2 linked regions of the Homo sapiens genome follow. The gene in region 1 interacts genetically with each later gene. Each region holds a gene or a part of one and is shown on either strand. Other genes may lie near its edges.

Region 1 (5,640 bases):
GTCATGAGCGTTAGACTGACTTGTTTGTCTTCCATTCCATTGTTTTGAAACTCAGTATGCTGCCCCTGTCTTGCTGTCATGAAATCAGCAAGAGAGGATGACACATCAAATAATAACTCGGATTCCAGCCCACATTGGATTCATCAGCATTTGGACCAATAGCCCACAGCTGAGAATGTGGAATACCTAAGGATAGCACCGCTTTTGTTCTCGCAAAAACGTATCTCCTAATTTGAGGCTCAGATGAAATGCATCAGGTCCTTTGGGGCATAGATCAGAAGACTACAAAAATGAAGCTGCTCTGAAATCTCCTTTAGCCATCACCCCAACCCCCCAAAATTAGTTTGTGTTACTTATGGAAGATAGTTTTCTCCTTTTACTTCACTTCAAAAGCTTTTTACTCAAAGAGTATATGTTCCCTCCAGGTCAGCTGCCCCCAAACCCCCTCCTTACGCTTTGTCACACAAAAAGTGTCTCTGCCTTGAGTCATCTATTCAAGCACTTACAGCTCTGGCCACAACAGGGCATTTTACAGGTGCGAATGACAGTAGCATTATGAGTAGTGTGGAATTCAGGTAGTAAATATGAAACTAGGGTTTGAAATTGATAATGCTTTCACAACATTTGCAGATGTTTTAGAAGGAAAAAAGTTCCTTCCTAAAATAATTTCTCTACAATTGGAAGATTGGAAGATTCAGCTAGTTAGGAGCCCACCTTTTTTCCTAATCTGTGTGTGCCCTGTAACCTGACTGGTTAACAGCAGTCCTTTGTAAACAGTGTTTTAAACTCTCCTAGTCAATATCCACCCCATCCAATTTATCAAGGAAGAAATGGTTCAGAAAATATTTTCAGCCTACAGTTATGTTCAGTCACACACACATACAAAATGTTCCTTTTGCTTTTAAAGTAATTTTTGACTCCCAGATCAGTCAGAGCCCCTACAGCATTGTTAAGAAAGTATTTGATTTTTGTCTCAATGAAAATAAAACTATATTCATTTCCACTCTATTATGCTCTCAAATACCCCTAAGCATCTATACTAGCCTGGTATGGGTATGAAAGATACAAAGATAAATAAAACATAGTCCCTGATTCTAAGAAATTCACAATTTAGCAAAGGAAATGGACTCATAGATGCTAACCTTAAAACAACGTGACAAATGCCAGACAGGACCCATCAGCCAGGCACTGTGAGAGCACAGAGCAGGGAGGTTGGGTCCTGCCTGAGGAGACCTGGAAGGGAGGCCTCACAGGAGGATGACCAGGTCTCAGTCAGCGGGGAGGTGGAAAGTGCAGGTGCATCAGGGGCACCCTGACCGAGGAAACAGCTGCCAGAGGCCTCCACTGCTAAAGTCCACATAAGGCTGAGGTCAGTCACCCTAAACAACCTGCTCCCTCTAAGCCAGGGGATGAGCTTGGAGCATCCCACAAGTTCCCTAAAAGTTGCAGCCCCCAGGGGGATTTTGAGCTATCATCTCTGCACATGCTTAGTGAGAAGACTACACAACATTTCTAAGAATCTGAGATTTTATATTGTCAGTTAACCACTTTCATTATTCATTCACCTCAGGACATGCAGAAATATTTCAGTCAGAACTGGGAAACAGAAGGACCTACATTCTGCTGTCACTTATGTGTCAAGAAGCAGATGATCGATGAGGCAGGTCAGTTGTAAGTGAGTCACATTGTAGCATTAAATTCTAGTATTTTTGTAGTTTGAAACAGTAACTTAATAAAAGAGCAAAAGCTATTCTAGCTTTCTTCTTCATATTTTAATTTTCCACCATAAAGTTTAGTTGCTAAATTCTATTAATTTTAAGATTGTGCTTCCCAAAATAGTTCTCACTTCATCTGTCCAGGGAGGCACAGTTCTGTCTGGTAGAAGCCGCAAAGCCCTTAGCCTCTTCACGGATCTGGCGACTGTGATGGGCAGGTCAGGAGAGGAGCTGCCCAAAGTCCCATGATTTTCACCTAACAGCCCTGATCAGTCAGTACTCAAAGCTTGGACTCCATCCCTGAAGGTCTTCCTGATTGATAGCCTGGCCTTAATACCCTACAGAAAGCCTGTCCATTGGCTGTTTCTTCCTCAGTCAGTTCCTGGAAGACCTTACCCCATGACCCCAGCTTCAGATGTGGTCTTTGGAAACAGAGGTCGAAGGAAAGTAAGGAGCTGAGAGCTCACATTCATAGGTGCCGCCAGCCTTCGTGCATCTTCTTGCATCATCTCTAAGGAGCTCCTCTAATTACACCATGCCCGTCACCCCATGAGGGATCAGAGAAGGGATGAGTCTTCTAAACTCTATATTCGCTGTGAGTCCAGGTTGTAAGGGGGAGCACTGTGGATGCATCCTATTGCACTCCAGCTGATGACACCAAAGCTTAGGTGTTTGCTGAAAGTTCTTGATGTTGTGACTTACCACCCCTGCCTCACAACTGCAGACATAAGGGGACTATGGATTGCTTAGCAGGAAAGGCACTGGTTCTCAAGGGCGGCTGCCCTTGGGAATCTTCTGGTCCCAACCAGAAAGACTGTGGCTTGATTTTCTCAGGTGCAGCCCAGCCGTAGGGCCTTTTCAGAGCACCCCCTGGTTATTGCAACATTCATCAAAGTTTCTAGAACCTCTGGCCTAAAGGAAGGGCCTGGTGGGATCTACTTGGCACTCGCTGGGGGGCCACCCCCCAGTGCCACTCTCACTAGGCCTCTGATTGCACTTGTGTAGGATGAAGCTGGTGGGTGATGGGAACTCAGCACCTCCCCTCAGGCAGAAAAGAATCATCTGTGGAGCTTCAAAAGAAGGGGCCTGGAGTCTCTGCAGACCAATTCAACCCAAATCTCGGGGGCTCTTTCATGATTCTAATGGGCAACCAGGGTTGAAACCCTTATTTCTAGGGTCTTCAGTTGTACAAGACTGTGGGTCTGTACCAGAGCCCCCGTCAGAGTAGAATAAAAGGCTGGGTAGGGTAGAGATTCCCATGTGCAGTGGAGAGAACAATCTGCAGTCACTGATAAGCCTGAGACTTGGCTCATTTCAAAAGCGTTCAATTCATCCTCACCAGCAGTTCAGCTGGAAAGGGGCAAATACCCCCACCTGAGCTTTGAAAACGCCCTGGGACCCTCTGCATTCTCTAAGTAAGTTATAGAAACCAGTCTCTTCCCTCCTTTGTGAGTGAGCTGCTATTCCACGTAGGCAACACCTGTTGAAATTGCCCTCAATGTCTACTCTGCATTTCTTTCTTGTGATAAGCACACACTTTTATTGCAACATAATGATCTGCTCACATTTCCTTGCCTGGGGGCTGTAAAACCTTACAGAACAGAAATCCTTGCCTCTTTCACCAGCCACACCTGCCATACCAGGGGTACAGCTTTGTACTATTGAAGACACAGACAGGATTTTTAAATGTAAATCTATTTTTGTAACTTTGTTGCGGGATATAGTTCTCTTTATGTAGCACTGAACTTTGTACAATATATTTTTAGAAACTCATTTTTCTACTAAAACAAACACAGTTTACTTTAGAGAGACTGCAATAGAATCAAAATTTGAAACTGAAATCTTTGTTTAAAAGGGTTAAGTTGAGGCAAGAGGAAAGCCCTTTCTCTCTCTTATAAAAAGGCACAACCTCATTGGGGAGCTAAGCTAGGTCATTGTCATGGTGAAGAAGAGAAGCATCGTTTTTATATTTAGGAAATTTTAAAAGATGATGGAAAGCACATTTAGCTTGGTCTGAGGCAGGTTCTGTTGGGGCAGTGTTAATGGAAAGGGCTCACTGTTGTTACTACTAGAAAAATCCAGTTGCATGCCATACTCTCATCATCTGCCAGTGTAACCCTGTACATGTAAGAAAAGCAATAACATAGCACTTTGTTGGTTTATATATATAATGTGACTTCAATGCAAATTTTATTTTTATATTTACAATTGATATGCATTTACCAGTATAAACTAGACATGTCTGGAGAGCCTAATAATGTTCAGCACACTTTGGTTAGTTCACCAACAGTCTTACCAAGCCTGGGCCCAGCCACCCTAGAGAAGTTATTCAGCCCTGGCTGCAGTGACATCACCTGAGGAGCTTTTAAAAGCTTGAAGCCCAGCTACACCTCAGACCGATTAAACGCAAATCTCTGGGGCTGAAACCCAAGCATTCGTAGTTTTTAAAGCTCCTGAGGTCATTCCAATGTGCGGCCAAAGTTGAGAACTACTGGCCTAGGGATTAGCCACAAGGACATGGACTTGGAGGCAAATTCTGCAGGTGTATGTGATTCTCAGGCCTAGAGAGCTAAGACACAAAGACCTCCACATCTGTCGCTGAGAGTCAAGAACCTGAACAGAGTTTCCATGAAGGTTCTCCAAGCACTAGAAGGGAGAGTGTCTAAACAATGGTTGAAAAGCAAAGGAAATATAAAACAGACACCTCTTTCCATTTCCTAAGGTTTCTCTCTTTATTAAGGGTGGACTAGTAATAAAATATAATATTCTTGCTGCTTATGCAGCTGACATTGTTGCCCTCCCTAAAGCAACCAAGTAGCCTTTATTTCCCACAGTGAAAGAAAACGCTGGCCTATCAGTTACATTACAAAAGGCAGATTTCAAGAGGATTGAGTAAGTAGTTGGATGGCTTTCATAAAAACAAGAATTCAAGAAGAGGATTCATGCTTTAAGAAACATTTGTTATACATTCCTCACAAATTATACCTGGGATAAAAACTATGTAGCAGGCAGTGTGTTTTCCTTCCATGTCTCTCTGCACTACCTGCAGTGTGTCCTCTGAGGCTGCAAGTCTGTCCTATCTGAATTCCCAGCAGAAGCACTAAGAAGCTCCACCCTATCACCTAGCAGATAAAACTATGGGGAAAACTTAAATCTGTGCATACATTTCTGGATGCATTTACTTATCTTTAAAAAAAAAGGAATCCTATGACCTGATTTGGCCACAAAAATAATCTTGCTGTACAATACAATCTCTTGGAAATTAAGAGATCCTATGGATTTGATGACTGGTATTAGAGGTGACAATGTAACCGATTAACAACAGACAGCAATAACTTCGTTTTAGAAACATTCAAGCAATAGCTTTATAGCTTCAACATATGGTACGTTTTAACCTTGAAAGTTTTGCAATGATGAAAGCAGTATTTGTACAAATGAAAAGCAGAATTCTCTTTTATATGGTTTATACTGTTGATCAGAAATGTTGATTGTGCATTGAGTATTAAAAAATTAGATGTATATTATTCATTGTTCTTTACTCCTGAGTACCTTATAATAATAATAATGTATTCTTTGTTAACAATGCCATGTTGGTACTAGTTATTAATCATATCTAACCAACTGTAGGTGTTCTTTCCTGATAACTTTTTTAAAAAATCAATAAATTATTTTTAGAGCAGTTTTAGGTTCACAGCAAAACTAAGCAGAAAGTTCAGAGAGCCCCCCCTGTCGCTAACCAGCCTCTCCCACCATCACCATCGCACCTCAGGAACCAGAGAACTTTTTAATGGAAAAAAAATCCAAGCCAGCTCGGAGGCTTCCTCCTGTGTCTGGGCCAGCCCCTCGGGCTCTCAGATGCATTCCAACTCAAGCTCTTCACATGCCAGAGCCTTCCAGTGCCCTTGAGACCCCTCATTCCAAAGAT
Region 2 (5,227 bases), on another chromosome or scaffold:
GGTGACTCACGCCTGTAATCCCAGCACTTTGGGAGGCCAAGGTGGGAGGATCACTTGAACTCAGGAGTTCAGGACCAGCCTGGGCAACATAGTAAGATCCCATCTCTATTTTAAAAAAAAATTATATATATATGTGTGTGTGTGTGTGTGTGTGTGTGTGTGTATATATATATATCATTACTTAAAAAAAATCCTATTCTATATATTCAAGTTATCCATTTATTTCCTTAGTCAAACAGTGGCATAGTTCATTTTTTCAATTCAAAACTAGTACATGGGTATGCTTAATTCCATATCATAATTTTTCCACTGGAATTAATTTTCACAGTGCTGAATATGGAATGTATATACTCAATAACCCTGTGGGGAGCTTTTGAAAAATTCTAACACTTAGGCCCCACTCTTGAGATTCTAATTCAATTGATCCGGGTTAGGGTCTTAGCATTGGCACAGGTTGAGCATCTCTAATCCAAAAATCTGAAATCCTCCAGAATCTGAAACTTTTTGAGTACCAACATGATGCCACAAGTGGAAAATTCCATATCTCACCTCAAGTGACAGGTCGCAGTCAAAACACAGCCAAAACTTTGTTTCATGCACAATATTATTTAAAATATTATGTAAAATTCGTTTCAGGCTATGTGGTTAAGGTGTATATGAAACATGAATGAATTTTATTTTTAGACTTGGGTCTCATTCCCAAGATTATCTCATTATATACAGGTATATATTTCAAAATCTGAAAAAATTCCAATAACCAAAACACTTCTGGTCCCAAGATTTGGGATAAGGAACTCTCACCCTGCATTTTTTCAAAGTCCCACAAGTTGGAATTGAATAAGGTCACTAGATTGTATTAATATCAGTTTCTTAATTGTGACACTGTACTATAGTTATGTAAGATACTGCCACTGGGGATAACTGGTCGTAGGGTACTTACTGGTGGAAGAGTATTACCTGTAATTATATGTGCATCTACAATTATATTAAAATAAGACTTTTCAAAGTTCCCCAAATGATTCTAATGTGAAGCTATGATTGAGAACCGGTGCAATAAATACATTCTGATAGTAATACTGGATTTGATTGAAGAAGTCAAGTCTTCTTAATTTGATCACTAAACAGGTATCAGGATATAAATGAAAAAAGTGAAGACAGTATCTTTTTTTATTAATTGAATTTTATTGAGGTATAATTTACAAATAATTAAACACAACCATTTTAACAGTTTGACCCAGGTATATACTTACATAACCACTCTGTCAACAGAGAACATTTCCATCACTCCAGAAAGTTCCCTCTTGCCTTTTTGCAGTTAATTCCCCCTACTTCATCCCAGGAAACCACTGGGACTTTAACACAACCTGTGTTGTTTTTGCCTTAAAAAAAAAAAAACAACAAAAAAACAAACAGCCGAGCACAGTGACTCACACCTGTAATCCTAGCACTTTGGAAGGCTGAGGTGGGCAGATCACAAGGCCGGGAGTTCGAGATCAGCCTGGCCAACATAGTGAAACCCGATCTCTACTAAAAAATACAAAAATTAGCCAGGCATTGTGGCGCATGCCTGTAGTCCCAGCTACTCGGGAGACTGAGGCAGGAGAATCGCTTGAACCTGGGAGGCGGAGGTTGCAGTGAGCTGAGATCATGCTGAGAGCTAGACTCCGTCTCAAAAAAAAAAAACAAAAACAAACAAACAAATTAGGCTGGGCACAGTGGCTCACACCTGTAATCCCAGCACTTTGAGGTCTGAGGTGGGAGGATCACTTGAGCCCTGGAATTCAGGACCAACCTGGGCAACAAAGTGAGACCCTGTCTCTACAAAAAATTTTAAAAAATAATTAGCCAGGCGTCGTAGCGCATGCCTGTAGTCCCAGGTACTTGGGAGGCTGAGGTGGGAGGATCATTTAAGCCCAGGAGTTTTCAAGGCTGAAGTGAGCTATGATCAGGCCGCCGAACTGAAGCCTGGGTGACAGACTGAGACCCTGTCTCTAAAATAAATCAACAAACAAAACCAAAAGAAATGTCTTTCCTCTCTTACACACATGGGTATATGAGTGTGTGAGTATGCGTATGTCTGAGTGAGTGATAAAAATCCACTCCCTTAATATCATGAGTATGTGTGTCTATGAGTGATTAAAACTCAATAATTTAACAAATTTGTTTTATGAAATGAAGAGTGATTGAGAACTGTGTGGGACCCTGGTGCTTCCGAGAGATGATGGAGGGTGCAAACTGGTAGAAAGGATGTGAAGACTAAGAGAGGAAATCTGGGCCACTTGGAAATATGTAGCCATTGTGAGAGTAGAAAGTCTTCTGCTACTCATTCTCAGCTTTTTCCCTTCCCTCAGGCTAGTGAGAGATAGGAGTCTTGGAACACAAACTATAAGGCCAAGGTGGTAACAATCCATAATAACACAAATTTATTCACATGGTATTTATGATAGTCTTACAAAGCACTACATGTTAGCTCTTAGAGAGATAGAATGAGAATAGGGAGAAATCTTAGTGATAAGTGAGTATAGTTGCTCATTTTACAGATGAAGAGACTTAGGGAAAGGTTAAACAGCAGGGCCAAAGCCATAGAGCTGGTCAGGCTCAGGATCACACTCCAATTCCTTTACTTATAGTCCAGGTGATTCCATAACTTTGTGCTCTAGCAGGTAGAATTACTGTAAGAGATCCAAGACCTTGGGCTTTTTTCTCAGCATGTATTGATGTGCACAGCATTTATCCCTAAGTTAGAACATGCAGTATTCTAACACACATGTAGTTACTAAGCCCTAAGTTCTAAAATGCTCCATACAGATAGATGATTGCTTTAATTTATTTTGCCAAGTTTATTCATAAAATGGAATATCACATCAAAATTTTTAAGCATATTTAAGTCTCCCCATGAATATTGTATTTTAACTCAAAAATAATTTTTATACAATTTTCATTAGAAAATATATACAAATTTATAATCATTCTTTCTTAGGTTTTCCTTATGTTACCAATTATCATTTTATTTTCTAAATAACATTTCCCCCATCATTAGAAATCTGGGTTGCCAGTCAGCCTTTATTGTTTTGATTACTTCATCAAGGATCAAAATGTTTCTCTAGCAGAAACTCACTTTCATTTCTAAAGTTGTAGATAAAAAAACAATGGCAGAGAAGTAATCAAAAAGACAATCTCTTTTAAAGAATAGCAGCATATCCTTTGAAGGAAATTTGCTTCCAACTTACCTTTGGAAGGTGTAATTGGATTCTCTTTTCAATTAGAGCCCTGGGGTGTCCTCTTATCTCTTTGACCAATGCCTTGGAACATAAATGCTACATCAACATGGCAAGTAAGCCAAGGTTAGACAAGAGAATTACTAAATTCAATTAGGGTTAGTTCCTAATAGTTTAAGAAGGTAGGGAATAAAAAATTTAATATTCAGACACCTTACCTATTGGCAGAGAGATCTTTCTCTTTTTGGAGTTTGGCTTAAAAACAAAGCAACCCTATAAAAAGAAAGACGAAAAGCATAAAGTCAAAGTAGCCAAGGAGCAGAGAAATCTGATTAACCAAATATTTTATGGGTAAGCACTTTTTTAAAAAAAGATGTTAGGGGAGAGAACACATTTCTTTCAGGTTCTAAGAAATCACATCACTTCTCTCTGACCTATAGAAGGAAAATTCTAAAACAACAAGGGGGACTATCTACTCTCTCCCCTCCCTCCCATGAGATGCCCATTTTTGATTTTGCTCTTTGACACCTGATCTAAGAGGTAGACAAAGAAAATAAAAGCTGATTAAATTTAAGCCCAGAAAGGTTCCATTTTCATAAACTTAAAGGAATTAATACTACACATTAAAATGGGCTGGGCACAGTGGCTCATGCCTGTAATCCCAGCACTCTGGGAGGCCAAGGCGGGTGGATCACAAGGTCAGGAGTTTGAGACCAGCCTGGCCAACATGGTGAAATCCTGTCTCTACTAAAAATGCAAAAATTAGCCAGGCGTGTTGGTGTGAGCCTGTAATCCCAGCTACTCGGGAGGCTCAGACAGAAGAATCACTTGAACCCTGGAGATGGAGGCTGCAGTGGGCTGAGATCGTGCCATTGCACTCCAGCCTGGGCAACAAAGAGCGAAGCTCTGTCTCAAAAAATAAATAAATAAAAATGAAGATTAAAAAGGTTGAAAATAGTGATGTTCTCCCAACCCGAAACTTATTTAAACTCGAAGTATCTATAACCTTAGTAGTAAATAGATAATTGCAGCTGTTTCACTCTACATACTTCTCTTCATCTGATAAATGCCTACTCATTTATCCATTAAAGTTTGACTCAACACTCATCTCCTTCAGGAAACCTTTCACAATTCTCTAGCCAGAAATTCTCCTTTCCTCGAGATCTCTCAGTACTTGAACATCTTTATTTTGCATTGTTTTAAGTCACTTTAATTGTATATCGTAGTTGTTTATGGGTGTGTCTCCCTGAGTAGACTGTGAGTGCCTTCAAGCACAAACTGTATTTTATTTATAATTGTTTCTCCAATGTTTGGAATAGTGCTAACATACATATTAGGCAATCAGAATATGGAATGAATAAATGCTTGCCAAATAACTGTCCTGGTAATTTCCCAGCTATGTTTAGTTTCATATTATTGTTTGACCAGTGGTAGATCACCCCCAAGTTAGTGGTCCTAGTCTATTCTACCAATTCTAAAGTCATACATGATGGATAGCTTATAGTTTTTTTTTGTTTGTTTGTTTGTTTTTTTGAGACAGAGTCTCGCTCTGTCGTCCAGGCTGGAGTGCAATGGTGCGATCCTGGCTCACTGCAACCTTTGCCTCCCGGGTTCAAGCCATTCTCCTGCCTCAGCCTCCTGAGTAGCTGGGATGACAGGTGCCCACCACCATGCCTGGCTAATTTATTGTATTTTTAGTAGAGACGGGGTTTCACTATGTTGGCCAGGCTGGTCTCGCACTCCTGATCTCGTGATCCATCCGCCTCGGCCTCCCAAAGTGCTGGGATTAGAGGCATGAGCCACTGCACCCGGCCTGATGGATAACTTCTTAAATATTTCGATTTCTATGGAAAATAAAAGACAGAATGAAAGAACGATACCTAGGAAAAGTTGTCTCAGGATAGTGTTAAAGACCGCTGTGCAACTATAAAGTAGCCATTTGGATTACATGTTCCCATTTAAGAACTGTGCCTTAGATTCTTTTTTCTGCTATTGTTGAGACAGAGTCT

What was found. A genetic interaction does not mean that the proteins touch.
Region 2: changes in EGFR (region 1) and ORC3 together harm fitness more than expected from each alone (negative genetic interaction), as found in Homo sapiens cells (one large-scale study listed by BioGRID).

Annotation. Positions count from the first base shown.
Region 1 is NC_000007.14:55,206,331-55,211,970, forward strand, and holds the end of EGFR (epidermal growth factor receptor isoform a precursor), read left to right. Parts: 3' UTR 1-5,298; downstream 5,299-5,640. UniProt on the Homo sapiens protein: Receptor tyrosine kinase binding ligands of the EGF family and activating several signaling cascades to convert extracellular cues into appropriate cellular responses.
Region 2 is NC_000006.12:87,592,617-87,597,843, reverse strand, and holds part of ORC3 (origin recognition complex subunit 3), read right to left. Parts: intron 3,494-5,227; exon of another isoform or gene 3,492-3,493; coding exon 3,437-3,491; intron 3,318-3,436; exon of another isoform or gene 3,231-3,317; intron 1-3,230. UniProt on the Homo sapiens protein: Component of the origin recognition complex (ORC) that binds origins of replication. DNA-binding is ATP-dependent. The specific DNA sequences that define origins of replication have not been identified yet.